Linked DNA regions of Homo sapiens: region 1 is reported to be linked to region 2. Evidence: microRNA targets listed by miRTarBase, many of them from high-throughput screens and not tested one by one. Region 2 holds a microRNA gene; the other region holds the end of a gene's coding sequence.
The links. The annotated mature microRNA hsa-miR-509-3p reads UGAUUGGUACGUCUGUGGGUAG and lies in region 2 at 937-958, shown strand. An mRNA with a match to its seed (bases 2 to 7 or 8) in the 3' UTR can be bound and repressed. Matches are read on the target gene's strand: a 7mer-m8 pairs with bases 2 to 8, a 7mer-A1 pairs with bases 2 to 7 and ends in A, and an 8mer does both.

Region 1 (3,407 bases), not on the chromosome of region 2:
CCTTCTCTTCATCGGTAGAATGGGGATAGTCATTTTGCCCTTAATCAATTCTAAGAGGCACATCTGTTCACATGTTAAGTCTTCTGTAGTTGGGGTATGTCATATTTAGTTAGCAGAGCTTTTTCTTTCCTAGCAGTTATAAAATACTGGGGCATCTTATGAGTGGTGGCATTTTAAATTTGATGAAGCCCTCAGATGACCCCTCCCTCATAGGGCTGGTGTGAGGGTTCAGTGAGTTAGTGTGTTGGGCGATTAGAATGCAGCCAGTGAAGGCCTATGATGGTACCCAGTGCTGGTAGTAGTAGTATTGACTCCATCATCACTCCAACTCAGATCTGGGACTCCCAGCCCTCTCCTCACCCTGGCCCCCACCCCTGAGGACCCTTTGCCCTGGTTCTACCCTGCCTCTGGGCCTTGACCTGTGCCCTCTTCTTCCACAGCTGTGATTGTGGGCGGGGTGGTGGGCGCCCTCTTTGCTGCCTTCTTGGTCACACTGCTCATCTATCGTATGAAGAAAAAGGATGAGGGCAGCTACACGCTGGAGGAACCCAAGCAGGCGAGCGTCACATACCAGAAGCCTGACAAGCAGGAGGAGTTCTATGCCTAGTGGAGCCACAGTGCCTCCCTGCAGCCTCAACACCACCCTGCTGTCCAGTCCCCAGCCTGGCCCCACCAGCCCAAGCCTGGGACTGGGCCTGGAACCTGGCCCCAGTTCTTCTCTGCCCTCTCTCCCAAGGTCTGCCCAGGCTGCCAGCCTCACACAGATCTTCCCCGAGGAAGAGGGGCTGCTGCCATCTGCCCCAGACTGTGCCCTTACGAGCTCATCTCTTGTTCCCCTCATCCCTGCCACCAGTCTGGGGCTTCAGGACCTCATGTCAGATGGATGGGAGGAAGAAAGCTCCTGATTGGCTGGTGGTGGAAGAAAGGGTGGGGCTTGAGATGAGCCTGAGCCCTGACTTGGCACCCACAGTGCTCACTGAGATCTCCTTTTTGGGGCAGAGAGGCACTCAGGCTGGTTTCCAGGACAAACATTTGGTAAACACAGCCCTTGAAATCATCTAGACACTGCAACCTCTTGCTCGTATCCCAGGGCCTCTCTCTAGCTGGGTGAGAGGGTGTCCCTTGTCACCAGCCTGTTTTGTCCTGGTCTCTCTGGGGTTGTTGAATCTCTCCTCTTGCCTGCCAAGTACACATGTACCCAGACTTCATTTCTTTCTGCATCTTCCCCCAAGAAACAGCTTCCTGAGGGTGCTGGGGCAGCCACTGGTGAGGAGGGGCTGCTCTGATGTCCCTCCTATGAGGGGACTCTGCACAGACACCATTGCCCACACTATCACCATATTTTCACTCAGTCACACACAAGACAAAAGCATGCAATGACAAAACCATACGCAATCCTGACCGCCCAGCCAATCAAGACATATCACAGAACACACGCGTCCTTCCAAGAATGTTTATCCTCATGCATCACTTACACACCCCCAGACACGTACTGCAATGCAAGTCACTAGTCATGGTCACATGACAGTGACAGTGTGGCCTCCTCCTACCCCAAATACACCCACACTCTGGCACCACACACATTGTCTCCAGCTTTCAGGCTTACTGGGGAGGGTGGAATCGAGCCAGAACAATCAGCCCATATTGGGTCCCCCTAAGTTGCCCCGTCATACTCAGTCCCATGCCATGGTGCCCACACCAACCATGCAGCCGCCAACCCCAGCCAGTGTCAGACACAATCCCATGTGGATGCACAGTCTCACTCCACATGACCTGCTCTCAATGCTGGAGGGAAACAGGCAGGCCCTTGCCTTTCTCGGAAAAAGTGTGGGGCCACAGCCCTTTTAGGGCATTGCATGCAGGTGGGCCTGGCTTCACCCCTACCTGCTTCCTCCCCACCGCAGCTGGCAGAGGGGGAGGTTTGGGGCCAGACCCCCACTAGCTGGGAGCCTGGGGGCTCCTCTAAGGCTGAGGAAGGAAATTTGGCCCCAGGTTGTTGGGGGGTCTTGGGTCTCCCAGGACGGAAGGCCCAGGGCAGGGAGGGGGCATGTGGTTGGGCTCCTTTATCTCCCTGTGTCCCCTTCCTGCTTTGAGCTAGGGGGCTGACTCTGCCTCCCAGGACACAAGTCTCCAAAGTGCCTGTGAGGGCGGGCCCTCCGCACCCTCTGCCCTCTGCCTGGCAGGCCAACCTCAGCCCACCTGCCCAGAGGCCCTCCCTGTGGACACCCCCTCACCTATTTGGCCAAACAATTCTGGCTGCAGCTTCAGGGGCCATGGCTGGAAGCAGCCCCTGCAGATCCCTCAGGCCCCGAGGTCAGGGTTTGAGGGATGAGACCAGGTGATAGTGGGGGAGGGGTTACTTCCTTTGTTACCTAGCAAGTAGGGCTATTTCCATCGGTATTTTAAATGTGGGGTCACAGATCTTTTGGGGAGGGTGTGCTTGGCAGGGGGCCTCTTGGAGCCAAAGGGATGTGGTGTGAGTTGCGATTGGCTGGCACTCACACCCCCACCCCTCACCCACATCCCAGATTCAAGTCAGGAAGGCAGGTTTTATTTCAGGGCCCTTTTCAAGATGCCCTGGCAGCAGATTTCTGCAGGATGAGGGGTAGCGGTGTGTAGGCAGTGAGGGGGAGGTTCCAGGGGCTGTCCCACAGCCTGTCTTTTCCAGGCTGGGCTCCATCTTCCAGTCCCAAAACCCTCCTTCACAGGGCCCAGAGGCTTGTGAGGAAGCCAGGTGGACCCAGCCTTAGAAGAGTGGGCATGGGGGGCCCCTGATATCTGGAGGGGGCGGGTTGGCCTCAGTCATCTTTGGAGCAGAAGGGCTGGGTCCTGGGGCCACAGACCACAAGGCTCAGCCTCCCTACCCTGCTCCCTGGGGTGCTGCTGTCTTGGAGAGCACAGCTCTGGTGAGACGGCCTGGGCAGGCCGAGGCTGAGAAACCAGGGAGGATAGAGGAGAAAAGGGCTTGGGCCCCCAGCCCCAGAAGATGCTGGACCCCAGGTGGGAGACCCAACAGTGGGTGCAGTTTCTCAGTAGGGCTGGAGCCAATGGTGGGGGTGGCCCCGGCAGGCCTGGCTCCTCACATCCCAGGGGTTGGCTTCTGATTTGGGGCTTGGGCTCCAGGCACTGGCTTCTCTTCTCTGTGTCCTTAGCATTTGAGAGAAGAGGCCAGGGGCCTTGTTCATGGATCCCTGGACCCAAGGCAGATGTCCAGGCTTTATCCTCCTGAGGATGAGGAGTCTGACCAGCCCAAATCTGCCCTGGCCGGCCTGACCGGGGCAAGGCAGTCCAAGAGAGTTCAGTGAGGACCAGCTAGGCTCTCCCAGGTGCAATGTGGGTGCAGGGCCCTCATGTCCCCCTACCCCTGCCTGTGATGGAGTGTTCTGAGGGGCTTTGGCATTTGCTGG
Region 2 (3,407 bases):
CTGTGTGTGGTACCCTACTGCAGACGTGGCAATCATGTATAATTAAAAATGATTGGTACGTCTGTGGGTAGAGTACTGCATGACACGTGCAACATACATGATGACACTGTGTGTGTGTTGGAGGCATTTAGTTGCATGCAGAGGGATGCTTTCCCTATAGTGCAGGTATTTTACCCTCACAAACCCTCCACTTCCATGCTGGACTACCTCAAAAAACTCTCTTAGGTGCCTAATCAGACACATGGTCTAGGAATTTAAGGTCCTTGCAACAAGCCTCCCATTGAGTTTTTCTGAGATTGATTTCCATTTCTATGATGCTGCCTGATTGAATCAAGGTTTATTGTGCCATTATACAGTTTCTTTACGCCTTAAGAGTATTATTCATTTTGCAGAAACTGTTTCCTGCTCCAACATCCAAATCTATTAATGGTTAGCTTCCTTTCTCATTTTCAAGTCTTCTTAAGCCTTCCAAAATTCTCTCCTGCTTCTTAAACACTTAACTTTTCTGAAAATCAAAATATTTTCTATCTCAGATATACAAAGTCCTCTTTCTTCATGTGCTAATAAAGTACATATTCGTTCTTTTGTAAATACATTTTAATCTATTATAAGGAACAGGATAAGACATGCAAGGATATTTCTTCTGTGAGTAACAGAACCTAACAGAAATGTTTAATATTTCTCAGTTCTGAAAACTGTCATGTGAAAGATGCAACGTGGGAGTGGACAGGACTCAAAGCGGGAAATATAAGGAAAGATAGTGGATTGAATTCTGCAGAAGTCCTTCGTCCAAATTCCAATGGCCACGCACAGCTTGTAAATATTGAATGGTTGTTTTAAAGGTGAATGGGTGGGTATTAAGGCAAGGCTGCCATCCTCAGACATGCTGTGTGTGGTACCCTACTGCAGACAGTGGCAATCATGTATAATTAAAAATGATTGGTACGTCTGTGGGTAGAGTACTGCATGACACGTGCAACATACATGATGACACTGTGTGTGTGTTGGAGGCATTTAGTTGCATGCAGAGGGATGCTTTCCTTACAGTGCAGGTATTTTACCCTCACAAACCCTCCACTTCCATGCTGGACTACCTCAGAAAACTCTCTCAGGTGCCTGACCACCAGACACGTGATCTAGGAATTTAAGGTCCTTGCAACAAGCCTCCCATTGAGTTCTTCTGAGATTGATTTCCATTTCTATGATGTTGCCTGATTGAACCAAGGTTTATCTTGCCATTTTACAGTTTCTTTCTGCCTTAAGAGTATTATTCTTTTTGCAGAAACTATTGCCTACTCCAACATCCAAATCTGTTAACTGTTAGCTTCCTTTCTCATTTTCAAGTCTTCTTAAGCTTTCCAAAATTCCCTCCTGCTTCTTAAACACTTAACCTTCTGAAAATCAAAATATATTCTATCTCAGATATAAAATGTCCTCTTTCTTCATGTGCTAATAAAGTACATATTCGTTCTTTTGTAAATATATTTTAATCTATTATTAGTAAGTCATATATCAGGAATTGTGAATAATGCTGAGAATTTTTTATTGTTTGATTTTTTTGCATTTACTTAAAAACATTTTTTATCTCTAGGTTTTCATTTACTTCCTTTATGTTGTTTCTTTCTCATTCAGTGATGAGAGAGGGTGTATGGAAGCAGAAAATGGGTAAAGGAGAGAGAATGAGAGTCAGAATTAGAGCAAGAATAATCTGTTTTTTTTTTTTTTTTAATCAAGTAGGGTAGAAGTCACAGGTGGACATCTAGGTTTTATTCCAGTTATTCATGGCTAAAAATAAAGCTACTTTGTATATTTGCATACAGATGTATATATGAACACAAGTTTCATTTTCCTTGTGTAAACTGCTACTAGTAGGATTTGAAGGTCACATGGCAAGTGTAAGTTTACATTTAAAATTAATTAAAAAATAATTTCCAGAATGGTTTTACCATTTTGTGCTGCATTAAGCAATGTATTAGTGATCCAATTACCCAACTTCTTATCAGCATTTTGTATTGAAAAGCCTTTGTTTTGTTTTTATTAGCAATTTTAATATGTGTATAGTTCCCTTGTCAGTTGTGGTTTTAATTTGCATCACCTTACTGACGGAAAATGTTGAGCACCTGTACATGTACTTACTTACCATTCATGTATCTTCCTTGGTGAAGTGCCTTTGGGATTTTTCTCACCTTTACCGAGTTGTTCACTTATCTTTGAGGTTTACTATATACATATAGATAGAGATATATAGGTATACTGCATACAATTTCTTGGCCAGAATTATGATTTACATATATTATCTCTCAATCTGTTTTGTTTTTTTCATTTTCAACAGTATTTTGTGCAGAGCAAATGTTTTCAATTTTGATAAAGTACGACTTAACAGTTTTTCAATGTATGCATTATGCTTTTAATGCTGTATCTAACAACTTTTAGACTTAGATGTGAGATTCATGGTTAACTGTGTTTTTCTTTCAGCATTTTGAATATGTTCTACAACTGATTCCAGCTTCCATGGTTTCTCAAAAGAAGTCAGTGTTAAATCTTGTAAGAATCACTTGTATGAAATATGCTCCCTTTCTCTTGCAGCTATAAAGGTATTCTTTCTTTTACACATTCTCTTTCTCTCTCTCTCTCTCCATTAACAGATTGAATACAATGTCTTTAAGTCTGGATATCTTCATGCTTATCTCACTTTTTTGATGTGTACATTTATGTTTTTTATGAAATTTGAAGTTTTTAGCATTATTTCTTTCAACACTATTTTTTTCTGGTTTTCTCTCTCCTGTCCTAATGCTATTTCCATTAGGCATATTTTGGTATGACTCTGGTGTTTCACCTTTCTGAGGCCATGCTCATGCTATGTTACTGAATGGAAAAGTGTAAAAAAAAAAAAAACTTTAAACTATCTTGTTCCAGGAAAATGCTCAGAAAACTCAGGAACAAAAAGAAATATAAGAACATCCCAAGATACCAAGACCATTTTCTGTCTCGTTGATCACTGCTGGTATGTAAAATGAGCTTTTTCGATTACGGAGTCTGGAAAGAAAAATGAGTTTTTACTCCTTCCATTCCACTACCTACTGAACCTACTGATTATTATCTTGTTATTTACTTAGTTGATCTGGTCTTTTTTTTTTTTTTTTTTTCATTTTTTTTGAGATGGAGTCTTGCTCTGTCACCCAGGCTAGAGTACAGTGGCGCGATCTTGGCTCACTGCAAGCTCCACCTCCTGGGTTCATGCCATTCTCCTGCCTCAGCCTCCCCAGCAGCTGGGACTACAGGTAGCTGCCATCACACTAATTTTTTTTTTTTTTTTTTTTTTTGAGACCGAGTCTCGCTCTGTCACCCAGGCTGGAGTGCAGTGGCACGATCTCGGCTCACTGCAAGCTCCATGTCCTGGGTTGACA

Region 1: miRTarBase lists SDC3 as a target of hsa-miR-509-3p. Seed matches in the 3' UTR shown: 7mer-A1 at 1,410-1,416.

Annotation. Positions count from the first base shown.
Region 1 is chr1:30,870,411-30,873,817 of GRCh38, reverse strand. It overlaps SDC3 (syndecan 3), which reads left to right. Exons shown (of 5, transcript NM_014654.4): 5 at 441-3,407. The coding sequence ends at 607. Among named protein-coding and RNA genes, the nearest start is that of SDC3, 37 kb to the left of the region's middle. RefSeq lists an enhancer at 2,411-3,282.
Region 2 is chrX:147,256,326-147,259,732 of GRCh38, reverse strand. It overlaps MIR509-2 (microRNA 509-2), which reads left to right and starts at 883; the gene lies at 883-973. The region is part of intron 2 of LOC105373347 (periphilin-1); the gene reads right to left. MIR509-3 (microRNA 509-3) reads left to right here and starts at 7; the gene lies at 7-81.